Linked DNA regions of Homo sapiens: region 2 is linked to region 1. The links come from fine-mapping of genetic effects on gene expression. A gene starts in region 1. The other region holds a variant in brackets. All regions are shown on one strand. Distances are from middle to middle. Region 1 holds the start of ALDH5A1 (aldehyde dehydrogenase 5 family member A1). Region 2 overlaps GPLD1 (glycosylphosphatidylinositol specific phospholipase D1).

Evidence for each region. PIP is the estimated chance that this variant, and not a neighbour inherited with it, causes the effect. A credible set is the group of variants that fine-mapping cannot tell apart.
Region 2: its variant is the best candidate, but not a certain one, in a credible set for the expression of ALDH5A1 in whole blood (TOPMed, PIP 0.70).

Annotation. Positions count from the first base shown.
Region 1 is chr6:24,486,918-24,502,956 of GRCh38, reverse strand. It overlaps ALDH5A1 (aldehyde dehydrogenase 5 family member A1), which reads right to left and starts at 7,988. Exons shown (of 10, transcript NM_001080.3): 1 at 7,607-7,988; 2 at 351-434. The coding sequence starts at 7,960. GPLD1 (glycosylphosphatidylinositol specific phospholipase D1) reads left to right here and starts at 13,379. Exons shown (of 25, transcript NM_001503.4): 1 at 13,379-13,542. The coding sequence starts at 13,446. RefSeq lists a silencer at 7,593-7,982.
Region 2 is chr6:24,458,020-24,474,058 of GRCh38, reverse strand. GPLD1 (glycosylphosphatidylinositol specific phospholipase D1) reads left to right here. Exons shown (of 25, transcript NM_001503.4): 6 at 392-440; 7 at 1,423-1,477; 8 at 6,785-6,892; 9 at 7,120-7,147; 10 at 7,240-7,379; 11 at 11,264-11,329; 12 at 13,660-13,780. Among named protein-coding and RNA genes, the nearest start is that of GPLD1, 24 kb to the left of the region's middle. RefSeq lists a silencer at 10,987-11,187. The variant C/T (reference allele first, on the strand shown) is at 7,893.

The sequences.
Region 1 (16,039 bases):
TGGAAGAAGTATTGGTACATTAAAAAATGTACAAAAACAAGTTTAAAAAAAAAAACAACCAAAACAGTAACATGGAAAAAAATCAGAATGGTGAAACAGCAGTTATTCATATAGTTGCAAACAAAATCTATTTTTGGATACTATTAAAGAATAAACTAGAACATACAAATATTATTTTAGCAAATCTAAGTACCCTGGCACAATAATGATTTGGTATTTGATCAGTAGAGAAGGAATCACATATTCTTCAGCTACAGCCAGCAGTGAAGGGAAGTCAGCGGCTTTCCCAAGTTTAGTGTAAAAATTCCTGGAGAATTTCTCAGTGCACCAAGCCAGAACCCTGAACTTACACTTTCAGCTGTGATTATTCTGGCAAGGTCATCCTTATTTTGTATCATTAAATTGTACCACTTCCGAAGTAATGAACTCCTCTCCTGCAAAAGAAATAACAAGGCAGAAAAGTAATAAAATGCCAAGTGTAAGACAGAATGCTAAATAAAATTCAATATCCTAAAATATTAGCTGTATGGTCTCATTCTCCTTGGTTGTAATGGTTAATTTTATGTGTAAATTTGACTGGGAGACCCAGATAGCTGGTAAAACATCATTTCTGGGTATGTCCGTGAGTGTTTTCGGAAGAGATTAGCATTTGAATCAGTAGACTGAATAAAGAAGATTTGCCTTCAAAAATTCAGGTGGGTATCATCCAATCTGCTGAGAACCTGAAAAGAACAAAGTGGCAGAGGAAGAGCAAATTCACTCTCTGCATGAGCTAGGACATCCATTTCCTCCTGTTGTCAGACACCAGACATTGTCATTCCTGGTACTCAGGACTTTGGACCCAGTCTGGAACTCAGACTGGACATATCAGCTTTCTTAGGTCTCCAGCTTGCAGACAGCAGAGGGTGGGACTTCTTAGCATCCACAGTCACATGAGCCAGTCCTTTATAAGAAGTCTCTTCCTATATTCCTACATATCTATGATTATATATATACACACATACACATATATATATACACACACACACATATATATATACACCCACACACACACACACACATATATATATATATATATATAAAACATTGGTTCTATTTTTCTGGACAACCCTGAGTAAGATGCTTGGGGAAACATACATTGAACTTCTGTGTTTTTTGATTGTTTGTTTTTGAGACAGGGTCTGGGTTTGGACAATGAAAAGCACACAAATAAAAAAAATCAAAAATTTAAAAAAATTTTAAAAAAGAGACAGGGTTTTGTTCTGTCACCCAGGCTGAAGTGCAGTGGTGTGATCATACCTCACTGCAACCTCTGCTTCCTTGGTTCAAGTGATCCCCCCAGCTCAGCCTACTACTGAGTAGCTGGGACCACAGGCACACATCATCACGCTCAGCTATTTTTTTAACTCCTCTGTGTCTGTTACAACTTTAAGCAGAATGTGACTCAGGCACTACATTTCCATCCACGAGACTGGCTCTGAGTTATTTCTGAACAGCTTTATGATATGCTTAGGTAGGCTTGTAACTTTGCTTCTCCAAACTATACTTTTCTTTGGAAAACAAGCCCTGTGGAGAGTTCCTTCCATCAAGTTGATTCAGTTTAACCTATTTCTAGAGGACTAGTACATGCAGAATTGGCAACTACAGGGGAAGAAAAGTTCAAAAAGCAGACCCTACAAGAGGTAACAAATACTTTTTTTCTAAACATCAAGGGTATAGCTCAAGAACACTTCGATAACAAGATTTGGTCTACTAAGGAATCCGGCTTGATAGCTAAACACTTAGACTACCAAGTTAACATCATGTTATATACATCTTACAACGATTACCTTGATCTGTTAAAATAAGCATTTTACCTTGATCTGTTAAAATAAGATTACTTTGATCTGTGAAACTAAAAAAGCATTACTAGCTCTGCCTTAGTGCTTAAGGTATCACAGCATCACTTAGAAGTAGAAAGAAATCTTATCTTCCCCTTAAAGTCGTTGTTGTCATGCCATACAGACTTTTCATGCTAACAGGATCTACAGGATGATCATGCTCAGCTAATTAAAAAAAAATTTTTTTTGTACAGACAAGGTCTCACTATATTGCTCATGCTAACTGACCCTTCTTTGATGAGTAATAGAGATCCAATTTCAAGTTGCATCTAAAGAGGTATACTGCGTCATAAATTATAAAAGATAAAATAAGTTTTGTGGAAACAGCTATTATTGCTTATGGTAAATAAGAACAACTTTAATTTTACCATACAAAGGTATATAGTTCCCTACGTTATTATTATTATTATTATTATTATTATTATTATTTTAGATACGGTCTTGATCTGATGCCCAGGCTGGAGTGCAGTGGCGCAATCATAGCTCACTGCAACCTCAGACTCCTGGCTTTAAGCGATCCTCCTGCCTTGGCCTCCCAAAGTGCTGAGATTACAATCATGAGCCACCATGCCTGGACCATTCTACTTTCTGTCTCTATGAATCTGACAACTCTAGGTACCTCATATTAAGTAGAATCATACAGCATTTGCCCTTTTGTGACTGGCTTATTTCACTCAGCATAGTGTCTTCAAGTATTGTTCCCTATTATAGTGGCTCACTGGCAACCTGGATTTGTCCCAGAGACTGACATATGGACTGGGGCATGCATGAGGCATAAGAAAGGGTTTTACACACTTAAGAAGAGGGCCCAGGCACAACAACATGAATGCACTTAATACCACTGAAATGTACACTTAAAAATGGTTAAAATGGTAAATGTTATGTTATGCATATTTTGCCATAATTTAAAAAATTCCAATGAACAAAAAACAGATAAAGGGATACATTGGATTATTAACAATATTATGGGACCAGGTGTGGCGGCTCATGCCCGTAATCACAACACTTTGGAAGGCCAAGGAGGGAGGGTTGCTTGTGGCCAGGAGTTCAACACCAGCTTGGGCAATGCGGTGAGATCTGTCTCTACACACACACACACAGAAATTATCTGAGTGTGGGGCTGGGCGCAGTGGCTCGTGCCTGTAATCCCAGCACTTCGGGAGGCCGAGGCGGGCGGATCATGAGGTCATGAGATCCAGACCATCCTGGCTAACACGGTGAAACCCCGTCTCTACTAAAAATACAAAAAAATTACCCGGGCATGGTGGCAGGCGCCTGTAGTCCCAGCTACTCGGGAGGCTGAGGCAGGAGAACCTAGGAGGCGGAGGTTGCAGTTGAGCCGAGACTGCGCCACTGCACTCCAGCCCGGGTGACAGAGCGAGACTCCGTCTCAAAAAAAAAAAAAAAAGAAAAGAAATTATCTGGGTGTGGTGGTGCATGCTTGTGGTCCCAGCTACTCAGAAGGCTGAGGTGGGGGAATCGCTTAGGCCTATGAGTTTGAGGCTGCAGTGAGCCAATGATAGCATCACTGTACTCCAGCCTAGGCAATGGAGCAAGACCCTGTCTCAGAAAAAAAAGAAAAGAAAAAAGGAAGAAATGGCTTATTAAAAAAAAAATTAATTCATTCACATAAAACCACTTAAAAAAAGAAAATGAGGAAGGCCTAGAGAATCTAGGCCACCTGGGCTGCCATCAAGGCACTCTAAAGAGAGCGCTGCTCAGGCTGTAGCTTCCCACATCTGCACAGGTGTATTCAAAGCCAAGAAAAACCTTCATTTTTGTTTTTTGAGACAGTCTCGCTCTGTCACCCAGGCTGGAGTACAGTGGCGCCATCTCGGCTCACTGCAACCAACCTCCGCCTCCTGGGCTCAAGCAATTCTCATGCCTCAGCCTCTTGAGTAGCTGGGATTACATACAGGTGCATGCCACAATGCCTGGCTAATTTTTGTATTTTTTCTTTTTTTTTTTTTTTTTTGAGACAGAGTCTTGCTCTGTCCACCAGGCTGGAGTGCAGTTGGCATGATCTCGGCTCACTGCAACCTCCGCCTCCCAGGTTCAAGCAATTCTCCTTGGCTCAGCCTCCTGAGTAGCTGGGATTACAGGCGCCCACCACCACGCCCAGCTGATTTTTGTATTTTTTAGTAGAGATGGGGTTTCGCCATGTTGGCCAGGCTGGACTTGAACTCCTGACCTCAAGTGATCCACCTGCCTTAGCCTCCCAAAGTGCTGGGATTACAAGTGTGAGCCACCGTGTCTGGCCAATTTTTGTATTTTTAGTAGAGACAGTGTTTCACCATGTTGGACAGGCTGGTCTCGAACTCCTGACCTCAGGTGATCCACTCGCCTTGGCCTCCCAAAGTGCTGGGATTACAGGCGTTAGCCACCGTGCCCAGCCTGAACCCCTCCTTTCAAAAAGGAAGGTTCCCTGAGAAGATCCTAGCCCTTGTAAGATGGAAGCTGACATCACTGTAATGTTCAAGGGGCACAGACATTAGGATGGGCGGTGTGATCTGAACACAGGATAATGCTGCTAGTGTCAGCAAGAGGTCCCAACACCCGCCCTGCAGCTGCCAAACAATCACTGACAGACTAGAAGGCTTTCCAGACCCCTGCAGTGTAACACCATTGTATGGCAGCCTTGATCTTCGTGGGGCCTTGTGGGACTCCAGAATGATGCTAGGGGAACCAGGGCTCAGGCCCTGGTCCACTCCTTTCCTGTGATCTCACCATTTCCATAGCTGTAAGTATGTATGCAGTACACACAGGTATGAATTTCACATTTATATTTCTAGCCTAGGGTTCGCTCTCAAACCTCAGACTCATACACCCAACTGCTTACTTTACATCCTCTCTTGGGTGTGAACCGACATCTCAAACTCAATAAGTCTAAAACTGAACTCTTGATATCTCACCCTAATGCTGTTCAATTCAGCTATCCTCATCCTTCCAATTGCTCAGGCCAAAAGCCCTGGAGTCATCACTAACCCCTCTCCTTCACCTACTTTCTATATAATGATCCATCAGAAAATCCAGTGGGCTCTACCTTCAAAATACATCCTTTATGGGATAACTCTTCACCTTGTCCACTGCTACCACCCTGGTTCAAGCCACCGTGGCCTCCCACCTAAATCCGTGCAACAACCTCCTAACCTGTCTCTCTGCTTCCACCACTCTTCATCTATTCTCAGCACTGTGGTTAGAGTGGCCTTTCAAAATGTAAATCAGATCATATCTCTGCTTAAAACCCTGACACAGCCCCCTCTTTACTCAAAGTAAAAACCAAGTCCTTAGAATAACTCACAGGTCCTACATGTTCCACCCACTCTTCCCCTTCTCCCTATGACCTCCTCTGATACAACTCTTCCCCTTTGCTCAGTCCACACGGGCCTCCTTGCTGTTCTGCAAATGTGTCAGCCATGCTTCTACTTTGGCTCTAGCTGAATGTCCTTATGAGAGGTGAAGCCAGCTGGACTTCCTGGGTCGAGTGGGGACTTGGAGAACTTTTCTGTCTTACAAGAGGATTGTAAAATGCACCAACCAGCGCCCTGTAAAACACACCAATCAGCACCCTGTAGCTAGCAAGAGGATTGTAAAATGCACCAATCAGCGATCTGGAGCTACCAAGGAGATTGTAAAATGCACCAATCAGTGCTCTGTAAAAAACACACCAATCAGCGCTCTGTAGCTAGCAAGAGGATTGTAAAATACACCAATCAACGCTCTGTAAAATGCACCAATCAGCGCTCTGTAAAACGCACCAATCAGCAGGATCCTAAAAGTAGCCAATCGCAGGGAGGATTGAAAAAAAGGCATTCTGATGGGACAGAAACGGAACACTGGAAGGGATAAATAAGGGAATAAAAAGCTGGCCACCACGCCCCACCCACCCAGCAGCGACAACCCACTCGGGTCCCCTTCCGCGCTGTGGAAGCTTTCTTCTTTTGCTCTTCACAATAAATGTTGCTACCACTCATTCTTTGGGTCCATGCCATCTTTAAGAGCTGTAACACTCACTGCAAAGGTCCGCGGCTCCATTTTTGAAGTCAGCGAGGCCACAAACCTACCGGCAGGAACCAACTCCGGACACACTTACCTCCTTTGGTCTTTGTATCTCATGTCCTCAATGAGACCTACCCTGATGTTACGGGCTGAATGGTGCTCCTGGCAAAATTGACATGTCGAAGTCCTAACCCCCCAGTATCTCAGAATGTGAGTGCATTTGGAAATAGGGTCTTTAAAAAGGGAATTAAGTTATGATGAGGTCATTCTGGTGGGCCCCAATCCAATCTGACTCCTGTTTTTAAAAGAAGAAGAGATTAGGACACATATACACACAGAGGAAAGACCATGTGGAGACACACAGGGAAGATTCATTCATATAACCAACTGCTTACTTTACATCCTCACTTGGGCGTGAACAGACATCTCAGACTCCATGAGTCTAAAATTGAGGTCTGATGAGATACAAAGACAAAAGCTGAGCTCTCTGCAAGCCAATGAGAGGCCTTAGAAGAAACCAACTCTGACAACACCTCGATCTGGGATTTCTACCCTCCAGAGCGGTAAAATGAGAAATGTCTGTTGTTCAGGCCACCCAGTCTGTGGTACTTTGCTATGGCAGCCCTAGCAGAGGAATATGCCTGGTCACACTGTTGATGCTGCATCTTGCCCCTTCCCTCTGGCCCGGATCCTCTCCTGCTTCTACCTTTTTTCCATATTGCACTCAGCATCTCTCACATACTTATTTGCTTAGATATTATGTTTGTTGTTTAGAGTTCTGATCTCTCTTCTGCTCCCCTTCCACCCCATGTGAGCTCCATAAGGGCAGAATCCTTCTTTCGTTTAACTGAGGTATCCCAAGCACCTCCAACAGTGCAGGGCATACAGCAGGTGCTCAGTAAACAGCTGATGGATGAATGAGTGCTAAGACTCTCTTGTACTCGTAGGGATCGCTGGATGCATTCCTTCAGAGGGAGAGCTTTGAAGGACACGGTAAAAAATTTCACTGCGTTGACTCCAGGTTTAATAATATAATATTAGAAGGAAGAAACTACTTTCTTAGTTTTCTTCTTACTCTATTCTTCCCATTTAATGGCCCTCCACCCCTTACTCCCAATTCTCCAGTGTTCTCTATGCAATGGCCAATAGCAGCATTTATCCATTTAGGGTGAAAACCTGGAGAACGCTCCTGGATTTCTCTCTTCCCCTGCACAAAACCCAAATCTTTCTACAGTTCTCTCCGTTTCCGATCCCATGATTCTGGCCAGGGGCCCTCACTACCAGCCTTCTCAAGGGCCGCTGAAGCAGCCTCCTGCGTGGGCTCCCTGCAGCTGCGGAGATATTTCAGCTACTCTGAAGGGCCACACGTGCTCTCACTTCCCTGACACCCCTCCCCTTTCTCCCCGCCCCTCCACGGTTAGGCTTGTTGACCATAACAAGCAGCTCGCTTGTATTAGGCGCTCACGTTCTGCCTCCCCTACTGGGCAGTGCATAACTTGATGAGGCTTGAGGGCAGGGGTCGTGTCCCTAGTGCCCGGCTCAAAGTGGAAGCTCCAAACTTATTTGTCGGTCGTCTCCCTTGTTGCTCTGACTTTCCACTTTGTATACCCTGGGGAACTGAGCACAGGAGGGAGGCGACGCGGCTGGTGTCACTTTGGGGTAAAGCCCCCTCTGCTCCCCGCCGTGTCCCCGGCCAGCTCTGGCCCCCTGCATCCGGGCTCTCTCACCTTGGCGGAGACCTCCCTCCAGCGGCAGAAAGCCTCGTAGGCAGCGCGCACGGCGGCGCGGGCCTCTCGCACCCCGCAGTCGGCTACCATGCCCAGAGCGGCGCCGCTGGCCGGGTCTTGCACGGGGAAGGTGGCGGCGGCCGGGAGCCAGCGGCCGCCCACGAAGCTGTCGGTGCGCAGCAGCGCCGCAGAGAGGCCCGCCAGGCGCCCAGCGTAGCAGCGGAGCTGGGCCGGGCCGGGCGCAGGCCCGGAGGCAGGGACCAGGCCGCCGGCGCGGGGGCGGAGGCGGCAGCCTGGAAACGTCGACCCGAGGCGCCGGGCCCCACAGCTCCGCAGCCAAATGCAGGTCGCCATGGCCCGGGCAACGACGGCGACAGGAAACAGGCAAGCGGGCGCGCGCGCACGGGAACGCAGGGGTCGCGGGGAAGCAAGAGGAGCGAGGAGGCGCCGGGGACGCGCGGGGAAAGCGTGGGAGCTGGCGGAAGGTTGCAGAGCCACAGAGCAGCGCCCTCTCTCCGCGTCTTTCTCGCTGCACCGCCGCGCCGCCCTCTGCACCTTGCCCTAAGCGCCGCGCGGCTTCTCTCCTGGCGCGACCTTCTCCCGGGGGAGGGTTGGGTTCGGGGATGGAGAAGGCTCGCCAGTAGATGCACCTGCGGACTGCTGTCACCTTTTCACTTTTCGGGTGCTCATTTGTCACTAACTGCTCCTGAGCCCCCAATCGCTGCTAGAGACCCACTCTCTCCCCTTAGCATCCCCCAAATTCGGCATCCCCGGAATTTGTGCGCGGTCCATAGATGCGCTGGTGCCTGCCCTAAATGCCAAGGCCGTGATCACGCTTCTTCAGTTGTAGCTCCTGAGCACGTAGTATTGATTGGGAGCGATCGTTCTCTGAGGGGTCGAAGTGTGACCCCGCGTTCTGCTGCCTGGCTGCTTTTTTGGGTGTGTGTCTAGGCATTCTCCTAGGGTTGCTCCCGATAAATAACAGCGCTTTGGAAATAAACAGACTAGGATCCAAACTCAAGTCTGTTGCCGACAAGCTGTGTGACCGACAGGTTAACCTTAGTCCAGTCACTTATAAAATAGAACCATATCTACCCCATTTTGTTGTGAGATAACGTAAAATGCTCATTACAGTTGCCACATTAAATTCAATATAGCGTTCAAAGTCATACTAGCTACCCTAGTCAAGCCACTAGTAAGATTAAAGTTGGGTCACCAACTAGTAAATGGAAGCATTTGTCAAAATTGAATCAACCAAGGTATAAGGATTGAGCATACTATCCAACCAAGGTATTTGAGCACCTTTAAACAGCATTCTTCATCCGTTAAAAAATTAGACTTGGGCTTAAGACTCTGAAAGCAGCAGGGAAGCTTAAAACCTAATGAGGATAAAAATAAAAATAGCAGGCGTATGCTGGGAATTTGTGGGTGCAAATGAAGCCCAGCCCTATGCATTGATTTTAGGTTACATATCTCCCTTTCTCAACTCCTACAGCGTTGAGAGTATCTTGCTAGCTTTCACCTTTTTCTAGGACGTTGAATTTTTTTCTAGGACATTTGCAAAATGCCGAGGCAGTAACTTTAAATTTTGACTTTGTCTTTTGCTGAGTCAGATCCATTGAGTTTTGAGCCAGTCACATATGGCAGAAGTGATAACAGTAGAGTTTAATCAATTTCACACTATTTTGCTCTGTATTTTATTGCAGGAACTGGGGAGAACCAGGGAGTCCTAATAGGGATGTGGGCCAGTAGGTATCACAGGTGGGGCTGGGGAGCTGGCGTGTTTACATCTCCTGCCTGCGGAGGGAGTTTTTGTTTTTGTTTTGTTTTGTTTTTGGTGGTGGTTTTTGTTTTTTGTTTGTTTTGTTCTTGTGAGACCGACAGACTCATTCTGTCACCCAGGGTGGAGTGCAGTGGTGCGATTTCAGCTCCCTGCAACTTCCGCCTCCCGGGTTCAAGCGATTCTCCTGCCTCAGCCTCCCGAGTAGATGGGGCTACAGGTGTGTGCCACCAAGCCCAGCTAATTTTTGTATTTTTAGTAGAGACAGGTTTTCACCGTGTTGGCCAGGCTGGTCTTGAATGCCTGACCTCAAGTTATCCGCCCTCCTTGGCCTCCCAAAGTGCTGGGATTACAGGGCTCATTTCTACTGGCCTGGGGAAATCATTCAATTGAGGCCTCAATCAACTGAGGCCCAGAAAAGCCAAGTTAATTGTGGCTGCCTCTCTTGTTCAAAAATTACCCTAGCCCACTTACCTTTTTAAGGTTCTATTTCAAACGGTACCCACTCCCTTTCCCAGATGACTTATCCATTACGCACAGTAGGTACGATGCCAAGGGCCCATAAAACTTTTAGGAGCACTCACAAATGTTTAATTTATTCTAAAATCTGAAGAAAAGAAGTTTTAGGTGGCATATTAATATGTTAATCTTACACCAATGCAGATGTAAAATGTGATTTCTATTTATTGTTTACTTATTTTTGTGACAGGAAGTACTTCACAAAGGCAAAAGCGCCTGGAGCTTAGAAAGTTCACAATGTGGCCCTCCCCTTTTCCCTCAGTTTTGTGCCCCTCTTCAAGCCCCCATTCAGAGTGTAAACAATTTCCTCCTGGCTCCTGTCTTACTTCCAGCCTGTCCTGATGCCCCCTAGCGCCTGGCTGGGTGTCTGTCCTTACCAGGGCCTACAAGGACAAGACCATCAGGTGAGAGGGACCTCTTCCCTCCTTTCTCCTTTGGCTGCCCTTGTCCTGGGAACCTCCACTCCCCAGTTCCCACCCTTATTCATCCTCTCCCCCATTTTCTTTTTCTTTTTTTTCTTTCACTTTTTTTTTTTTTTTTTTTTTTGAGTCAGGGTCTTACTCTGTCGCCCAGGCTGGAGTGCAATGGCACGATCTCAGCTCATTGCAACGTCTGCCTCCTGGGTTCAAGTGATTCTCCTGCCTCAGCCTCCAGAGTAGCTGGGAGTACAGGTGCGCGCCACCATGCCTGGCTAATTTTTGTATTGTTTAGTAGAGATGGGGTTTCACCATGTTGGCCAGGCTGGTCTTGAACTCCTGACCTCAGGTGATCTGCCCACCTCGGCCTCCCAAAGTGCTGGGATTACAGGCATGAGACACTGTGCCCAGCCTCTTCTCCCCCATTTTCTAGACTGGCCCACATAAAGCTTGAGACCCTCTGGCTTTCAAACCTGTATTCTCCCTACTCACTCCTTAATGTAACTGTATGTTTACTTTTCACCTTGGGTCTCTATTTCCAGAAGAGTTCTAAATGGTAGAATCATGCTGTCTTGTTTATAACAAAGCCACCTATATTAGGAAAGGGGGGTGTGGGGCAGAAAGAAAAATATTTCCATATGCTTATTATTTGTCAGATAGTAATATTGTGAGCTACGTTTTAACTTTCTTTAAAGTCATATCTTTGATGTTTTTATTGTTACCAAAGTAATACAAACTTCATAAAACTGCAAGCAATATTGTCATATAAAGACCATATTCATAACTATCACACTAAGCAAATAATTTCCTCTTATTTTATTACATTTATACGTTTATGTCATTCTGAATCTCAAATACAAAAAAATGCATAATGAGAAATTGAGACATTTGGGATTAGTATTGTTTGGTAACTGAACCCATTCCTTTTTTTTTTTTGAGGTGGGGTCTTGCCCAGGCTGGAGTGCAGTGGTGTGATCTCAGCTCACTGCAACCTTCACTTCCCAGGTACAGGCGATGTTCCCGCCTCAGCCTCCTGAGTAGCTTGGACCATAAGTGCATGCCACCATGCCCGGCTAATTTTTGTTTTTGTTTTTTTCTTGGTAGAGACGGGATTTTGCCATGTTGCACAGGCTGGTTTTGAACTCCTGGCCTCAAGCCATCTGCCCGCCTTGGCCTCCTAAAGTGCTGGGATTATAGGCGTGAGCCACCACACCTGTTCTGAACCCATTTCTTTGGTGCTTTTTGGATGGGTTTGTTGTATTATATATGGTTAGATATCTTTTCTAGCAGTATTTTTTTCCCCTGTAACCATTGATTGACTGCTCTTGGATGTTCTGAGAGACAATATCCAAAGTCCCAATTAATAATTGTGACTCCCTCACGCACAGTCTGTAGAAGGCCCAGAGTGACAGGGAGGCAAACTCAAAGGCCTCTGGTGGCCAGAAGGGGTGTGGAAACCTGCACACATTGCATGGATGGTGGGGACTGGAGGAGCAGGACATGCTCTATCAGGGGGCAGCTGGCTCTTTGGCTGCAGCTGGTTGTCGTGTCACATGGGAGCGTCAGTTCATGATGCCAGTTCTTTTGTTTTTAAGAGAGCCAGAAATCTAGATTTCTACGTGAATTTTCTCATTTAGAAAAAGTTCATAAACTTGATTTAAGTTTATAAAACATCCTGTTAGCCAAACAAAACACGTAGGCATATGGCCTCTGGACTAATCAGGAGTAGCTGGGCCTACTGCCCCTCAGGTCTGGGGGTAGCTGCGGGATTTCTTTCCTTGGGGCTGTGCACATGGCTGTGTTAAGCTTACAGGGGAAACTGTTGGGGCGACAACTGTTGTCAAATCATTCCACTTTCTTTTTTTCTTTTCTTTTTTTTTTTTTGAGACAGGGTCTTGCTCTGTCACCCAGGCTAGAGTGCAGTGGTGCAATCTCGGCTCACCGCAATCTCCACCTCCTGGGTTCAAGAGATCCTCCCACCTCAGCCTCCCCAGTAGCTGGGACTACAGTCACGTGCCACCACACCTGGCTAATTTTTGTATTTTTAGTAGAGACGGGGTCTTCACTATGTTGATCACGCTGGTCTCAAACTCCTGACCTCAGGTGATCCACCAGCCTCAGCCTCCCAGAGTGCTGGGATTACAGGTGTGGGCCGCCACGCCCAGCCAAATCATCCCACTTTCTATTCATCCTTTCATTTGGCAAACCTGAAGTGAATACTATTTCCTCCCACTCTTTTAGGAGCCCATCTCTTGCTTTTAATGTAAAATATGCATAATTTGTGTTTTAAGATTACCATCAGTTTCATGAAGAGCTTAATTTTTCCCATGGATGAAGTGTAAGTGGGTACCTGATAATATATCGTGAGCTTAACATTTTCCAAACCCTGTTTCTTGGCCCTAAATCTGCCCCCTTCCTTCCACCTCCCAAGTGGAATTGACATCTTTGCTTCAGCTGCAGGAATCTGACCTTGCAACAGGCTCTGGATAAGCCCTATTAGAACAGCCAGAGGTAGAGAGACCAGGAGTGGCTGCTCTTGTGTAATCCCATACAAGTGTCAGTATCTGTTGCCAAATACTGAAAAGGAAGCCAGTTCCAGCTGATTACCATAAAACTTTCCCAGCACTTGTGGCTTGGGAGGCGGAGGAAGCAGGACAGCCTGATAAATGTGTAGAAAGGATGCATGAGAGATCCACCCTTGTAAGGTGAGGTGGTCTAATATGTTGACTATCTGCACAGGTGAGCCTTTTTATAGAAAGCAAAAAATATCTGGAGACAACTTTGCTTGCATCTCTACACAAATTTCATGTTAAAATGAAATCCAGAAAAAACCTCGGTCAGAAGATGCAGTGCTTCTGGCCTAAGGCTTTTCAGATTTCAGTTTATCCTCCCAACCCCACCCCCCAGGAGCACAGAGTTTGTTTGCTGTTCTGGTGAAGCTAAACAGTAGTTGGACAGTTGACTTCATTGGAAAACGATATTATTTTGAAATGAGGCTTGGTTTCCTCGGTCAGTGACCTGCTTAGAGAGAAGCGGTGGGTCTGCACCTGGATTTTGGAGTCCCAGTGCTGCTGCAGCTCTGAGCATTCCCACGTCACCAGAGAAGCCGGTGGGCAATGAGATCATGTCTGCTTTCAGGTTGTGGCCTGGCCTGCTGATCATGTTGGGTTCTCTCTGCCATAGAGGTTCACCGTGTGGCCTTTCAACACACGTAGAAATAGGTAAGTACTGGTGTCTTGTTATGTTGTTGAGAGGACAATACATCTGTCAAAGACATTAAGGAAGAGACTGAAAATCCCGCTCGTGGATTGATACAGTTTCCCCTGGGCACTGAGCTGAGTGGCCTGACAGCAGGGAGGAGAAGCCGGTGATTGCAGTCATCCAGGGATAGGGATTGGCAGCATGACTTCAGTTAAGGGGCAAATAAGAAAGAGAGCTGATGCCCCATTGGTCATGGGACCCCTGTGTGTTTCTCTGGGTGGGGAAATAGTGAGAGGCTCAGTGAACGAGAGGTTGCAACGTGGCAGCAGAACTGACAGAATGGGAGAGGAACAAGATGGGTGGAATATGGCAGGAGTGAGAAATGTACTTTTGTTGTTTTTACATGTCCAAGGACAGGCATTTCCAAGTATATGTAAAGAGCCATATGTGGCCATGGGAGTGGGTCCCTGAGTCAAATTGCTGTAAAAGTGCTTGGCTTCAGGAAGGTCAAGAAAGTAAGGGAGTTTAGTTATCCACATGCACGGTGCCAGGAAGATGGCAGGAGTTGGAGAGCAGAAGGGTACAGCAAGCCAGTGCCACCGACCTTAGGGGCAAGGGCAGAGTCATCCTGGATATAGGGAGATGGCACCACAAAGAGTTATTTAAAATTTTTATTTTTCTAGCTTTATTGATGTATAATTGACAAAAATTGTATAAATTTAAGATATACAACATGATGTGTTGATATATGTATGCCTTGTGAAATGATTAGCACAATCAAGCTAATTAACACATCCGCCCCCCCCACATAGCTACCATGTTTTTTGCATATGGGCTGAGAACACTTAAGATCTTTCTTAGCAAAAGGATTTGGTTCTTGTATGAAGTGTATTTGTAACATGTTTTAACGCATGGAAAACGTGAGTCAATTTGTAATAGAATTAGCTGTGATAACATTCTACAGCAATTTTCAGATTAATTTCAGATATACCTGATGTTCTGAGTTTTCTTTTTTTTTTTTTTGAGACGGAGTCTCGCTCTGTCCGCCATGCTGGAGTGCAGTGGCGCAATCTCGGCTCACTGCAAGCTCCGCCTCCTGGGTTCACACCATTCTCCTGCCTCAACCTCCCGAGTAGCTGGGACTACAGGTGCCCGCCACCACGCCTGGCTAATTTTTTTGTATTTTTTTTTAGTAGAGATGGGGTTTCACCATGTTAGCCAGGATGATCTCGATCTCCTGACCTTGCGATCCGCCTGCCTCGGCCTCCCAAAGTGCTGGGATTACAGGCGTGAGCCATCGCGCCTGGCCTGAGTTTTCTTTAATTTAGATAAAAATTATAACAGAATTTTATAGTTGTACCACCTCCAGAAGTTTCAAAGAATAATAAGATTATAGGCAAAAAATGAAAATTTATCAGTGCAAAATAGACATATATACTGAGCTACGATGGGCAAGAACCTGTTATCACAGAATTTGACTATCTGAAAGGACACTAGAAGTCACCGAGTCCAGTTCTCTTCTTTTACAGATGAAGAAACTGATACTAGACAGTTTTACAGCTAAGTTTTCAGTGGCCTGGCCTAGAATTACATGTCCTGACAGCTGGTCCGGCGTTCTTTCCATTAAAAATGTACTGCTAGAAGGGAGTCAGGAAACAATGGAAAAGAGGATCAGACTTAGGTTCTAGTTCCAGCCATCCAGTAAAGTAGATGTGTGATTCTGAGCAATTCACTTTTTACCTACCTCTCAATTCTATAAAATGAGGGGGTTGAACTTCTTAAAGAATTCTAAAGTGTCTTGCAGTTCTATGTTCTGTGAAGTTGAAATTGCCAAAACTACAGAGTAAGCTGATGAGGAACAAATATAAATGGAAATACTCCATTTTTAATCCTTAGTGTTTAAAAATTTACAAGACAGATTGCATCTGAAATTTTAATAAAACCAGATAATTGCTTGCCCTTCTTCATTAAGTACCAAACAAAGGTCCTAATGGACATTTAAAGAATAATATTTATGTGAACATAATTGAAGGCATCTCCTGAAATAGAATCTGCACGGATTCTGAGAATTTTTTTACATAGAAGAAGACCAAAACTCCATCATTTATTTACTAATAAATTAGATGATTTTATAAATATTTTGGTTCACTTTTTCATTTCTTATAAAGGGGCCTGAGTGGAAGGTCAGCATTATCTGAGTGAGTTAATTAGAAATGGCTTCATTCAGCGTAAATCACTGGAATCCTGTACACAGGTTATTTGTATTTGTGGGTTGTGACTTTTATGATATTAATGCTTATAGTAGTGGCAATAGTTTTTTGTTATATGAATTTTAAAAATTGGAGGTGATTCACAACAGAAATAAGGTATCACCTTTGAATGTCACTTCCCAGGGAATGTTAGTCCTCTTATTGATTCTTGGGAGATTCAGGCTGTGGGTGGGTGTGGGGTGTAGTTGGTAGCTTTCTGAGATGATTTTGTCCTTCTGGTCCAATGATGAAAAACTTTTGAGGATCA
Region 2 (16,039 bases), 29 kb after region 1:
TGCCTCCCAGGTGCAAGTGATTCTCCTGCCTCAGCCTCCCAAGTAGCTGGGATTACCAGAACCCGCCACCATGCCCGGCCAATTTTTTGTATTTTTAGTAGAGATGGGGTTTCACTATGTTGGCCAGGCTGGTCTTGAACTCCTGACCTCAGGTGATCCACCCGCCTCAACCTCCCAAAGTGCTGGGATTACAGGCGTGAGCTACCGCGCCCTGCCTTTTTATTATTATTATTTTTTTACTAATAAAATGTTAGTGTGAAAATTGAGTCTATTATGCGTCCTCAGCAGTTCATTGAGTTAGCTGTCATCTCCCACCACTTGCTTGACTGTGGAAGTAAGAGTTGGGGCTACAATTTGTAATACACACCAGATGGTTCTCTTTCTTTCTTAGATTGATTTTCACGGCTCCTATTCAGAGGCTCATTCGGCTGGTGATTTTGGTACTGTTTATTTACATTTGCTAAATTTTCTCGTGGTATAGTTCACTTATAATGACATCACTACTGTGCTTTAAATATGTGTGTCTTTAATATTTTGCTGGTTGCATGTATTTTCTATTTAATGTTGCAGTTCATTTAGAGTAGAGATGTACCTCATTTAACATAGAGATGTATTTCTAAAAACTTGTGTCTATATGTATTTTTTTGTTAAAAAATTCTACACTTTGTTGTTGACATGTCATAATTTTAGAAAAACTTTACTTATACATTGGGTTAAAATTCATTAGCTAGTGTCTCCTACTTTCCTAATACTTTAGCTTTAAACTAGTAAACTCCACCTTTTGCCTGTAGTAGTAAATTGCTTTTAAATATTTAAACTAGGTGGTGAATGGTGTTTATTAAACCCTTATGGTCGATATTTCCTTAAAGTAAAACAAAAAACACCTTTGGTTATATGGCCAGTTCTTTCTTAATTTATATGTTTCACTAACTAAGATTTTTAAAAGATAATTTTTTCTTAAAAAAAAAAAAAAAAAAAAAGGCGGCCTGGCGTGGTGGCTCACACCTGTAATCCCAGCACTTTGGGAGGCCAAGGCAGGTGGATCACCTGAGGTCAGGAGTTCAAGACCAGCCTGGCCAACATGGTGAAACCCCACCTCTACTAAAAATACAAAAATTAGCTGGGCGTGGTGGCGCATGCCTGTAATCCCAGCTACGAGGGAGGCTGAGGCAGGAGAATTGCTTGAACCCAGGAGGCGGAGGTTTCAGTGAGCCGAGATCACGCCATTGCACTCCAGCCTGGGCAATAAGAGCAAAACTCCGTCTAAAAAAAAAAAAAGGCATGCCTTTACCTAAAACAATGAACAAAAACATGTAATAATGTGAAAAACTAATAATCCAACTTGTCAGACCTCATGTTGAATAGATGCATGCTATGTTTGTCACTAATCCACCAAATGTCAATATTTTTCTCATACCCTAGGAGGAGATGTGTTGAGCCAGTTTGAATTTAATTTTAATTACCTTGCACGACGCTGGTAAGAGCAATGTACATCTAAATATGTGGTATCTAAGTGGCATTTAGAGCCTTGACTTTTTTTCTTAGAAAATATAACTGACAATATAATTAGAAGTCTTCTGCACTGGTAAATTTTGAAAAGTAAAATTGCATATTAGCATAGTTTAGATTCTTTGAGAAATTGAATTCCACTCAATTTTGAATGGAGTGGAGTTGCTGAGTCATAGTTTACTTTTTCAAAATGATCATCTTAACTTATGCTCCCATTAGCTTTGTATAATCATTCTGGTTCTTCTGCATTCTCCAATACTTGGTATTGTCCAACTGTTAAAATTTCCAGCCTGTTTGTGTGTAATGGTATCTCATTGAGGTTGCAGTTTGAATTTCCCAGATTGCTAATGAGGTTACACTTTTCTTCTATTTTATGGATCATTTGTGTTTGATTTTAAGTGAAAACTTTTTCCAGTTTTCAGTCTATTTTTCTGTTGGGTTGTTTATCCTTTTTATTTATTTGTGAGTATTTATATATTCTGGCTTCTACTCTCTTGTCAGTTTGTCACTTAGTTATTACAAATGTCTTTCACAGTTTGTGGTATGTCCTTTCACTTATTGTGTATCTTGACAAACAGGATTTGTTAATATTCATGTAGTTGAATAGATCAGTTTTTCCTTTGTAATGTGTACTTCTGATGTCTTATTTAAGAAATCCGTTCTTAGCTAGGTGTGGTGGCACAGCATCTGTAGTCCCAGCTACTCAGGAGGCTGAGGTGGGAGGATCACTTGAGCACAGGAGTTTGAGGCTTCAGTGAGCTATGATCGCGCCTCTGCACTCCAGCCTGGGCAACACAGTGAGACCCTGTCTCTTAAATAAAAAGAAAGAAAACCTTTCTACCTTGAGGGCAAATGGTTATTCTCTTACATGGACTTCTAAAGCTTTTATAGTTTTATATCTTAGCTTTATGTCTTTGATTTAACTGGAGTTAATTTTTTGTATGTTCTGAGATGTAAATCTAATTTTATTTTTTCCTCTGGAGATAATGGATTGTCCCAGAATGATTTATCAATAGTCTCCCCTTTCCTTGCTGATCTACAATACCTTCTCTGTTTTGGTTTTCTGTTTCTTTCTGTCTTTTTTTTTGAGCCAGTCTAACTCTGTGGCTCGGGCTGGAGTGCAGTGGTGTGTGATCTTGGGTCACTGCAAACTCCAACTTCCAGGCCCAAATGATCCTCCCACCTCAGCCTCCACCTGGCTAATTTTTTAATGTTTTGTAAGAGATGAGGTCTTGCCATGTTGCCCAGGCTGGTCTCGAACTCCTGGGCTCAAGTGATCCGCCCACCTTGGCCTCCCAAGTGTTGGGATTATAGGTGTGAGCCACTGCACCCCCTTTGGGTTATAAATTAAAATGTTATGTATATGTATGGGTCAGTTTCTGGGCTTTCTGATATGTCCTTTTGGTCCCTGAACAATATTGATTATTTTAATTGCTGTAGCTTTATAATAAGTCTTGGGCTCTGTTAGGGCAGATCTTATAACTAGTCCTTCTTTTTCTTCAAAAGTACCTTGCCTATTCTTTGCCTTTGTTCTTTCAAATAAGATTTAGGCTCAAGTTGTCATGTTCCAAGAAAAACTTTGCTGGAATTTTGATTAAGTGTTTATTGAATCTAGAGATGAATTGGAAAATTAACAATTTTGAAATATTGAGGCCAGGCACGGTGGCTCATGCCTGTAATCCCAGCACTTTGGGAGGGTGAGGCAGGTGAATCACCTGAGGTCAGGAGTTCGAGATCAGCCTGGCCAACATGGTTAAACCCTGTCTCTACTAAAACTACAAAAATTAGCCTGGTACGATGGCACGTGCCTGTAATCCCAGCAACTTGGGAGGCTGAGGCAGGAGAATCACTTGAACCTGGGAGGCGGAGGTTTCAGTGAGCTGAGATCATGCCATTGCACTTCAGCCTGAGAGACAAGAGCAAAACTCCGTCTCAAAAAATAAAAAAAGAAAAAAAAATTTACCATTCAAATAAAAAGATTTGTAAGTTATAAGTAAGATAACATCACTATTTATTTCTTTACTTTTTATCAGGTTTATCTACTGATTATTAAGAGAGAAATTAGTTTCAAAGATCTCCCACATGAGGGTAGATTTTTCAATTTCTTGTAGTTCTGTCAGAGTTTGCTTTGCTATATAGATTTTGAAGATATATTGTTAGGTACATTCAATTTCAAAAGGATACCTTGTGAATTGAGCTTTTTATCGTGAGGCAAAATCCCTCTTTATCTCTAATAATAGTTGCTGCATTAAAGTCTCCTTTATCAGATGTGACTGGAGTTATACTGGTCATGTTTGGTGATATTCCATGGTGCTAGAATAAGTAGGCTCAAGTTAAGAACTGCCGAGATCATGCCACTGCGCTCCAGCTTGGGCGACAGGGTGAGACTCCAACTCCATCTCAAAAAAACAAACAAAAAAAAAACCGTCCAGGTTCCAAACCTAACGTGTAGGGTGTGGCACACGTTCTCAGGGCAAAAGCTGGTTGTCCCATTTGCTTACCTCCCAGGGTTTTTTTGTTTCTAGTTGTTTTTGGCCTTTGAAAAATTTCTGCTGTCCTGCTAGCTTGGTGATTCATTTAAAAAAATATTTTTTGTTATTTTGTCTGACTTTTTAAGCTATTTTTATTGGGAATGCCATTCCAGTGCTCTTATAAAATAAAAAATGAGTCTCTCAATTGTTTCTTTCTTTTACCTACTAAAAGAAACCTACTAAAGTTAGATTTTATTGGTTGCGATTTTTTATCTTGTTTATTCTGAGGATTTTTTTTTTATTATACTTTAAGTTTTAGGGTACATGTGCACATTGTGCAGGTTAGTTACATATGTATACATGTGCCATGCTGGTGCGCTGCACCCACTAACTCGTCATCTAGCATTAGGTATATCTCCCAATGCTATCCCTCCCCCCTCCCCCCACCCCACCACAGTCCCCAGAGTGTGATATTCCCCTTCCTGTGTCCATGTGATCTCATTGTTCAATTCCCACCTATGAGTGAGAATATGCGGTGTTTGGTTTTTTGTTCTTGCGATAGTTTACTGAGAATGATGGTTTCCAATTTCATCCATGTCCCTACAAAGGACATGAACTCATCATTTTTTATGGCTGCATAGTATTCCATGGTGTATATGTGCCACATTTTCTTAATCCAGTCTATCATTGTTGGACATTGGGGTTGGTTCCAAGTCTTTGCTATTGTGAATAATGCCGCAATAAACATACGTGTGCATGTGTCTTTATAGCAGCATGATTTATAGTCATTTGGGTATATACCCAGTAATGGGATGGCTGGGTCAAATGGTATTTCTAGTTCTAGATCCCTGAGGAATCGCCACACTGACTTCCACAATGGTTGAACTAGTTTACAGTCCCACCAACAGTGTAAGAGTGTTCCTATTTCTCCACATCCTCTCCAGCACCTGTTGTTTCCTGACTTTTGAGGATTTTTAAATTAAAAGATGATTGAGTATAAATCTGGTTTTTAAATGCTGCTCTTTGCAATGGAAATAACTAATATTTGTGAACCAAAAGCCTGATTTAGAATTCTTTTCATTGCTTTATACTGTAAACCAAGAAGTATCTGAGACAAGTCTCAATCAATTTAGGAAGTTTGTTTTGCCAAGATTAAGGACACACCCATGATACAGCCTCAGGAGGTCCGGATGACAACATGTGCCCAAGGCTGTTGGAGCACATCTTGGTTATCTGTACATTTTAGGGAGACTTGGGACATCAATCAATAAATGCGAAATGGCTGTTGGCCAGTTAGCTCAGTTGTGGTGCTAATGACACCAGGGTCGCAGGTTCAGTCCCCTTACAGGTCAGTTGTTTTGGCCAGGCATGGTGGCGCATGCCTGTAGTCTCAGCTGCTTGGGAGGCTGAGGCAGGAGAATTGCTTGAACTTGGAAGGCGGAGGTTGCGGTGAACCGATATCGCACCACTGCACTCCAGCCTGGGTGACAGAGTGAGACTCCATCTCAAAAAAAAAATAAAAATAAAAAAATAAGTAAAATGTCCATTGGTTCAGTCCAGAAAGATGGGACAACTCGAAGCGAGGAGGAGGCTTCCAGGTCATAGGTAGCTATGAGACATCCTTCCGAATTTCCAATTAGCCTTTCACTGAAAATGCAGTTTACAGTAATAGTGTCACTTATGCTGTAGTCTGGTTTAGTGAAACAATTAGGCAAAGGAAGCAATCAGATATACATTTGTCTCAGGTGAGCAGAGGGATGATATTTGAGTTCTATCTGTCCTTTGCCCACATGAATTTCCTTGTGGGCAAATTGTGAGGGAGGTATGTAGCTTTTAATCTTTGTAGCAATCTCACTTAGAAATAGATTGGGAGGGCCAGGTGTGGTGGCTCACGCCTGTAATCCCAGCACTTTGGGAGGCCGAGGCAGGTGGATCACCTGAGGTTGGGAGTTCGAGACCAGCCTGACCAACATGGAGAAACCCCATGTCTACCAAAAATATAAAATTAGCCGGGCGTGGTGGCACACGCCTGTAATCCCAGCTGCTTGGGAGGCTGAGGCAGGAGAATTGCTTGAACCCGGGAGGCGGAGGTTGCGGTGAACGGAGATTGCACCATTGCACTCCAGCCTGGGCAACAAGAGCGAAGCTCCATCTCCAAAAAAAAAACAAAAAACAGAAAACAAAAACAACCACACAGAAACCACACAGAAATAGATTGGGAGGCAGGTTTGCCCTACACGGTTCCCAGCTTGACTTTTCCCTTTAGTTTAGTGATTTTGGGGTTCTGAGATTTATTTTCCTTTACAATATTTTTATACTTTGGTATACTTTTTTGTATACTTTATATACTCTGAAATTAAGATGTCAGGGTGAGGAGACATTTTTATAATAGTGTTTTTAAAATAATTCTTTTCAATTCAACTTGAAACCATGAAAATACTTTAAATTACTTCTTGAACTCTGAATTCACAAAATTAACCACTCTTTTTGTACGTTATAGTTAGTTTCCAATCTGAGTATACCTACATAAATATTTGATTTAAGTTACCAGTTGTTTGCTCTGCATCATTGGGCCAATTATTTAACTTTTCTGTGCCTTAATCATTTCTTCTTATGTAAAACGGGAATATGATAGTACTAACCACCTGAGGTCATTGCTAGGATTAAATAACTGGTGCATGTAAAGACTTTTACATGGTGCCTGGCACAAAATAATCACGGAATAACTGGTAGCTGCTGCTGCTGTTGTTACTATTTTCAGCTTCAGAATCAAAACAACTCTTACTTTATTCTGCATTTTTCAGGTATGTGCCAGTCAAAGATCTACTGGGAATTTATGAGAAACTGTATGGTCGAAAAGTCATCACCGAAAATGTAATCGTTGATTGTTCACATATCCAGTTCTTAGAAATGTAAGCGTAACTCAGAGGACAATTTGCAGCTGATTTTGTTGTGACTTCCTTTGCACAGTTTTTATGTTTTTGTTTCCTGAGACTGGATTTTGGATTTATGGATTCTGCTTATTCAAAGGCAGTTGCATGACGGTGGAAAAGGGTGGATGGAACTTTTTCTTCATTATTTGCTTCATTTCTCTGTTACAAACTGCAACTCACAGCCAAAATTATTGTTTATTTTGCAGGTATGGTGAGATGCTAGCTGTTTCCAAGGTAAAGGCGTCATTCTTCCAAATCTTAAAGGATTATAAAGATACCAGGAATAGTACCATATTCATTTTATTTTTTCTTTCTCTCTGCCATAGTTATATCCCACTTACTCTACAAAGTCCCCGTTTTTGGTGGAACAATTCCAAGAGTATTTTCTTGGAGGACTGGATGATATGGCATTTTGGTCCACTAATATTTACCATCTAACAAGCTTCATGTTGGAGAATGGGACCAGGTGAATTCATATTGCATTTCTATTACCAATCACTCTCTGCCTTTTTACCCCATCCCCCAACATAACTCTCAGGTTTTTCAACTGATCACATAAAAACAAAACAAAACAATCTCATGAAGTGCTTTTCTAACCTATTCAAAGAGGGAAAGAATGGAAACTCAGTGATCTTATAAACTTGACTGGTTCCCATCCAGTTGGCTTGGTTGATGCTGCTCGTGTTTTAGAAATAGAGAGACAGTTATTGCAATATTTGGGGTCTGTGAGAAATGGCTCAGCCAGGCAGGAATCAGCCTCCACAGGTGGTGCTCCATTTGTTTCTTTCTTTTTATTTTGAGACAGAGTCTTGCTCTGTTGCTCAGGCTGGAGTACAGTGGCACGATCTCGGCTTCACTGCAACCTCTGCCTCCTGGGTTCAAGGGAGTCTCGTGCCTCAGCCTCCCAATCAGCTGGGACTACAGGTGTGCACCACCATCCCTGGCTAATTTTTTTGTATTTTTAGTAGAGATGAGGTTT[C/T]GCCATATTGGCCAGGCTGGCCTGAAACTCCTGGCCTCAAGTGATCCACCTGCCTTGGTCTCCCAAAGTGCTGGGATTACAGGCATGAGCCACTGCACCCAGCCTCCATCTGTTTCTTTTGGGAAAACCCATGCTGGGGGCTGGAGTGCCAGGTCTCCACAGGTCCCAGAGTGGCTGTGTTCTTGCTGTGGTGACACACCTCTCCACCCTGACTACACTCTCAGGGTTTCAGGGTGTCAAAGGATACCTCACCTAATACTAAAAAAACAGAAGCAAATAGAGCTATAGCTACATGCCCCGACACACACTCCAACGTAAAATGAGAAATAAATGCATTTGTAAAACATTCTGTTGAAATTTGACATCTAGCCCAGATGGGACAGCTGCTGAACCTCCAGTTCCTTTTCTTCTCCTAAGCATGCTCAGGACAAGAATTAATCAGAAACTCAGCCGAAATATAGATAAGGTAGACTGTGATTGTCCCCACTTCTAGCTGTAGTAGATCATTAGACTCTCACAGAGTCTTACACTACCCCTAGATCAGAGGGAGCCAAGGCCCTTCTGATAACCCATTTCTTTCTTTTTCTTTTTTTTTTAAGAGCACATGTGTTTTTGTTTTTTGTTTTTGAGATGGGGTCTTGTTCTGTCACCCAGGCTGGAGGGCAGTGGCATTATCTCAGCTCGCTACAACCTCCACCTCCTGGGCTCAAGTGATTCTTGTGCCTCAGTCTCGAGTACCTGGGACCACAGGCTCACACCACTGCACCAGGCTAATTGTTTGTATTTTTGGTAGAGATGGGGTTTTACCATGTTGCCCAGGCTGGTCTCCACCTCCTGAGATCCAAGTGATCCACCCGCCTCAGACTCCCAAAGTGCTGGGATTACAGGCATGAGCCACCATGCGTGGCCGGAAAACCCATTTCTTTTTTTTTCTTTTCTTTTCTTTTCTTTTCTTTTTTTTTTTTTTTTTGAGACAGAGTCTTGCTCTGTTGCCCAGGCTAGAGTGCAGTGGTGCGATCTCGGCTCACTGCAACCTCCACCTCCTGGGTTCAAGCAATTCTCCTGCCTCAGCTTCCCGAGTAGTTATGACTACAGGTACTCACCACTACACCTGGCTAATTTTTGTATTTTTTGTAGAGACAGAGTTTTGCCATGTTGGTTGGCCAGGCTGGTCTCGATCTCCTGACCTCAAGTGATCCACCCACCTCTGTCTCCCAAAGTGCTGAGATTACAGGCGTGAGCCACCATGCCTGGCCCAGAGAACCCATTTCTGATCATGCTGTTGGACATGCAGCCTCTCCCCACTACTGACCTGAACCGGGTTGAGATGTGGGTGTGGCTAGGAAGCACAGGGCAGCCCCCGAATCGGGGAAAGGGCAGAGCGGGAAGCTTAGGCTGTACCACCAGCAGTGGGAAAGAGGGTTCTCTGGGCGGGACCTGTGCCTGGGAGACTGTTCCAGGTCAGGATCATAGCAGAGTTAGCTGTTCATAAGTTGGAATGGCCTACAGAATGTAGATCCAGAATATTATACTGGGTGATATTCCTTTACCCTTATAAACATTTGCTAGTACCCAAACAGTGTTAACCATAATTATATATTGTGTTGATTTGAAACAAAATTCCCTTTGATGACAAATTCGACCTTAGCTTGGTACATAATAAACTTGTTTTTAACAATCGGTGAGTAACAATTTGGCAGGGATAGCAATCTCATATGAATGCCACTTTTAATAGTGAAATAAACCTCAACTAAAATCCCCAAGCTCTCCCGTGGACCTGGGTTTTTAGGTGCATACTGCCGTGGTTGTACAGAATTTAAGGGATCTGCCACTCACTACTGAGTTATCTGGAACAAGTTGCTAAACCTTCCAAAATCTTATTTCCTCACCTATAAAATTGGGACAGCAATACTATTTTTACCATAGGATTTTTGTGAGGAGTAAATTAGATCAGTCATGTAAAGGGTTTAGAATAGAGTAAGCACTTACTAAGTATTGGTTACTATTATTATTAGAAGGAAGCAAAGTTTGTATTGGAAGGACTCATAACATAAGGGCATGTTTGAGTGATTGACCTGCACTTACTTGTTTTATATAATCCAAACTGGAAAACATTTTTTGGTGTTCAATTTTGGTTTGGTTCTCCAAATAGCTAAGGAAAGATAGCTGGACCTTATTCTTTCGTTAGGAAAAGATAATTGAGAAAGAACATATTTCTTGTCTCTTGATCCCTGTCCCAATTTACCAAGGTGTAAAATTCCATGAGTTGATTGCTTGTTTGCATACATATACAAAGAAAGATTCATCAGAATTTATGAAAATGTATGGGAAATTCAGAGAAGTCTCCAAAAAGAGACAACACAAAAAAATTCATAACAGAAAGGAAAACATAAATATGTTCATAGTAACAGGCATTTCCCAGCTTACTAACACAGGTTATCTTCCAAAGCTCACTTATGTTATTTGGTATATTTTCCTTAAAAAAGCAATGAAGTAGTGGTAGTTACATTGCCAAGAACTCTACTCACCTCAAACTCTATTTGAAAGTATAGTGCTAATGCTGTAAGGCTGCCTTTTGTGTCCTGTGGTGGACAAGAAAAGGTCCAAAGAGAGAACCTTTTCCTCAGCTCAAACCTGGCCAGAGAAATGTTTTGGTAGGAAGAGTCTGCCTTCAGCTTTTTCCCACCTCCTTTTTGGAATTCCTTTTTCAGCAACTAATTTTCTTCACCCCTACACTCCACATTACTTTTGTATTACCCCAGCCTCCCTCAGTGACCTCCATACAAATCTTAAGATAGTCTTCATTCCAGAATACTCTTCTTATATTAATACCTGCTTCCTCAGTGCTTCTGTTCAGTGTTGGGGGAAAGCCTCTATTGGGAAGAGTTTATCTCTTATGTTCTCAGAGGCTTTTTCACTTGTAAAAGGGGATCCTTCATTAGCTATTTAATTATTGAAATTATGGAATTTTTTTTAAAGAAATGAAATTGAGAAATTCAGACACATTTAGGCATAAATGTGTATAATTGGGCAGAAGGTGACATAATTGGTAACCAGTGTTGATAACACTCTCAAATTCTGAGACGTTTCGTGTTAGCGTGGAACAGCTCAGCAGGTGGAGCGGGGAGGGAAGAGGAAGGCTGAGTCTGGGGTGACTGGCAGCATGAGCCTTCCTGGATTACCATGATAGTGACAACCGTCAGCCTACCCACCCTCTCTGGGAGAACATGGGCTCTTAATTAGTCCTGTATGGCTAGGTAATAAACACTTTAAGCCTTTGGGAGATGATTGAAGCGCACTACCGATTCTCGGTAAAATTCATGCTTGTGAAGAAGTAGATAAATGGCTAACTCATTTGACTGTTTCCTCAGTGACTGCAACCTGCCTGAGAACCCTCTGTTCATTGCATGTGGCGGCCAGCAAAACCACACCCAGGGGTAAGTGGATTCCAAAATTGTTCATAGAAAAAGTACATCTCACCTGGAGGAGATGCCCTATAGAGGTTGAGAACACGGGATCTGTTGAGAGACAGCTGTAGGTTCAAATTCCAGATTTGTCACTTGCAGCTGTGTGATTTTTAAACAAGCTGCTTGATTTTTGGAGCTATAGCTTCCTCCTTTTGCAAAATGGAAAAAGCACATCAACACTCCCAGAATTATGGTGTGGATGACATGCAGTGGTGGATGTAAAGCAATTAGCACATGTTGAGTTGCTCATTAAACGGTAGTTAGTGGCTGGGCACAGTGGCTCATACGTGTAATCCTAGCACTCTGGGAGGCTGAGGCAGGAGGATCCCTTAAGTCCAGGAGTTCAGGACCAGCCTCAGCAACATAGTGAGACCCCTATATCTACAAAAAATGAACAAAATTAGCCAGGTATGGTGGTGTGTGCCTGTAGTCCCAGCTACTTGGGAGGCTGAGGCGGGAGGATTGCTTGAGCCTAGGAGTTCGAGGCTGCAGTGAGCTGAGATCAGGCCAGTACACTCCAGTCTAGGCAACAGAGTGAGATCCTGTCTCAAAAAAAGAAAGAAGAAATGTAGTTAGTATTATTGTAACTATCAATATTATTGTCTTACTCATAAACTTCACCCAGATTTTACATGAAAATTTATTTATTGATGAGACAGTGTTGGGAGAAGCCCTCAATGTTAAGGGCCAGAAGCCTGGTTTGTATTTTAAGAAATGATATTTTCTGCTGGAGTCAGGTACCAACCGACAGTCATTTATGCATTCATTTAATAAGTTATTAATATTACAAATATGTGTATATTTATTAATAAAATAGAACAAAATAACACAAATAATAAAATATCATTTATTAATCAGTACGTGCCAGGAACTGGTTCAGGCACTAGAGATATCATTGTGAACAAGACAGAAACAGTTCCTGCTCTCAGGTATATGGCCTGGCAGGTAGCTGGGCACTAAACAAGTAATTGTGGACATTGTTAAGTGTTAGGAAGAAAAAATGCAAGGTGCTCTGGGGATTTGCAAGCGTCCTGGCCTGGGCACAGGAGGGTTCTCCTTGAAGAAGTGATGGCTTAACAGATATTTAAGTGTCAGGAATTAAAAATGCAGGGTGTTCTGGGGATTTGCAACAGAGCGTCCTGGCCCTGGGCACAAAAGAGCTCTCCTTGAAGAAGTGATGGCTTAACCGGGATATTTAAGGATGATCAAGAGTGAGATATACTCAAAAGTAGAGTATTGCAATGATAAAGGTACTGAGAGGAATGATCTTAGCACTTTGGAAGAATGAAAATTACACAGAAAGTGTTCAGTGAAGTCGTCATTGTTGTATTTGAATTGGGTAACTTTTTTTTTTCTTTTTCTTTTTTTCCTAGCAAACCATTCCTTCAACATACTTTGTTGTTGTTTAATCACATTGAGCACCTTTTGATTAGGCTTGCAATCTTTCTTGGGGTTGCCAGAACCCTGACACTAGTTGGTGTCATGCCCAGGGCCCCGTCACTTACGGCTGTTGTCCACTCCCTACTTCAGTCATTTCTGAAGCCTCTCTGGCTCCCTGAGTCATCTGCTTTTTGGCTGGTTGACATCTTTGAATGTGAAAATGTATTTTTATTGTATAATTAATTTTAGCATGTCTTTGAAGATAAATCAGTATGCTGGCTGGGCGTGATGGCTCACACCTGTAATTCCAGCACTTTGGGAGACCGAGGCAGGTGGATCACCTGAGCTCAGGAGTTCGAGCCCAGCCTGGCCAACATAGTGAAACTCCATCTCTACTAAAAATACAAAAAAATCAGCTGGGTGTGGTGGTGCATGCCTGTAGTTCCAGGCTACTCAGGAGGCTGAGACAGGAGAATTGCTTGAACCCAGGAGGCGAAGGTTGCAATGAGCCGAGATCGTGCCACTGCACTGCAGCCTAGGTGACAGAGCAAGACTCCGTCTCAAAAAAAAAAAAAAAAAATCAGTATGCTTGCAAAGCAGTTTCCCCACCAGCTGATACCTGTTGCTAAATTTTTTCATAATCTGGAAAGAATTGAAGCCTTTTACTCCTACCATAGAGCTCTGATATTATAGGAAATATGTTTTATAAGGATAGGCTTTTAAGCCTTAGAAATGTGTTTACTAAAAGATTTTGTGAAATGAAGGTTTTCTAAAACTTTCTGTGTTGCTCCTTCAGCCTTCTGACGTTAAAATTTTGTGGTCTTTTAACCTGTGATTAACTTGACTATATTCTTCAACTCAGTTTTACAGGGGGTTGTTTTCTCAGTCGTAACCAGTTTATTCCTCTTTCTCTTCAACAGCTCAAAAATGCAGAAAAATGATTTTCACAGAAATTTGACTACATCCCTAACTGAAAGTGTTGACAGGAATATAAACTATACTGAAAGAGGAGTGTTCTTTAGTGTAAATTCCTGGACCCCGGTAAGAATTTTCTGCTCTAAGTTGAGAAAGAGGAATGCTGCTTCTTGAGATACCTTGTTTCGCTGAGTCCCTGGGTATTTATTTGTCCATTGAAATTTACCTGTGGTGGGATGTGGTGGCTGGGAGGCTGAGTTGAGAGGATCCCTTGAGTCCAGGAGTTTGAGACCTGTCTGGGCAACATAGCAAGACCTTGTCTCTATAAAAAATAAATAAATTAGCTGGGTGTGATGGCTGTGCCTGTTGTCACAGCTACTTGGGAGGCTAAGGCAGGAGGATTGCTTGAGCCCAGGAGTTCAAGGCTACAGTGAGCTATGATCATGCCAGTGCACTCCAGCCTGGGTCTAAGCATGTGCCAGGCCGGCAAATACTCTTGGCATCCATATGTGGTTTGTTCTGGAGATGCCCTGAGTCTGCACCTCAGTGGTCTCTGTCAAGTCAAGATGACCCTGGGCACCCAGGCCAATCCTTCTTTGGACTTAGTCCCAAAGGCGTTCACAATGTTGAAGGCTCACTGTGCATAGCCCCATTGTGTATGAAATTAATCAATGAAGTTAGCTGTTAAGTGAAGACACTCTACTGGGGGATATAAAATGAAAGACAAATGAACTCTGACCCTTAAAAAATTTCAGTCTGAAAGGAGTGACAAATACAAAAATAACCATTATGTGAGTAGACTGCAACACATACCATGGTGCGGTAAGTGCATCATTAGATAGTAGGGAGAATGGGCGTGGTGGCTCACGCCTGTAATCCCAGCACTTTAAGTGGCTGAGGCAGGTGGATTGCTTGAGCTCAGGAGTTTGAGACTAGCCTGGGTAACATAATGAGACCCTGTCTCTACAAAAAAGTAACAAAAAATCAGCTGGGCATGGTAGTGTGCACTTGTAGTCCCAGCTATTCGGGAGGCTGAGGTGGGAGGACTACTTGTTCCTGGAAGGCAGAGGTTGCAGTGAGCTGAGGTTGCACCACTGCACTCCAGCCTGGGTGCTAGAGTGACACCCTGTCTCAAAAAACAAAACAAAAAAAAAATAGCAGGGAGAAAAGCTTCACCTTGGAGGCTATCAGACAGAGAAGGCTTCCTGGAGGAGGGGACATTCAAGTTAGGTCTTGGACAGTAGATAGTATTTCATCAGTGAGAGTACATTTCTGTTAGTGGGTTGGGAAAGTTTCAGGTGTTGGGAAATCTGAGTAGTCGTATTTGCCTGGAGCACAGGACAAGGAATATGAGTTACTATGAGAGGCTTAGGAAGCTAAGTAGGCATTGGATTGTAGTGGGCTCTTAATGTCAGAAGGGTTTAGACAACTTTGTGAATGGGGTCTCTGAGAATTGCGGAAGGGCCTAGTTTAGGTTTAATATACTGCTGTCACTGCCTTAAAATTCTTAACAATTTTTTTTTTTTTGAGACAGAGTCTTGCTCTGTCACCTGAGCTAGAGTGCAGTGGTACCACCTCAGCTCACTGTAACCTCTGCCTCCCGGGTTCAAGCAATTCCCTGCCTCAGCCTCCTGAGTAGCTGGGATTACAGGCACCCGCCACCATGCCCAGCTACTTTTTGTATTTTTAGTAGAGATGGGGTTTCACCATGTTGGCCAGGCTGGTCTTGAACTCCTGACCTTAGGTAATCCGCCCACCTGGGCCTCCCAAAGTGCTGGGATTACAGGCGTGAGCCACCACACCCGGCTTTAACAATTTTTTTAACAAAAGGCTGCATGTTTTAATTTTGCCCTGGCCTCCTTAAATTATGTAGCTGGTCCGGACCGGGGAGGGGAACCTCTATCAAAGCACATGTCATTTTGTCTTGCCATATTTGGATTTTCTCCTTTGCAAAAAAATGAATTGTCTAAGGAGGGACTTTATGTTCCCAGTGTCTGCTGTGGTACCTGGCATATAGTAGGAGCTGATTAATTGCTTCCTGGATGAATGAGCAAGTCAGAGCTAGGCTTTAGGATGAAGCAATCTATGCATGGCCTGCCAGTGAGATTAGAATGGGCAAAGCAGAAGGCATACTCGTGCCTGAAAGATCCTCAGACCCTGTGCTTTTGCAGCGCCTGAGCCATCTGGGCTGCCTTCATGCTCTGAGCCAACTGTGCTCTGCTTTGGAGCAGACCTAGGAAATCTTGTTTGGTCTCATGTCACCCTTGGGCAGATTTAGAGTTGTGTCCCCTTAACTTGGATGGATCTAGTATCTGGCCAGCTTGTTCAGGGCCACTCTCGTTTGTGTTTTTTGTCTCTGCAGTAACCACATTAAGAACGATTCAG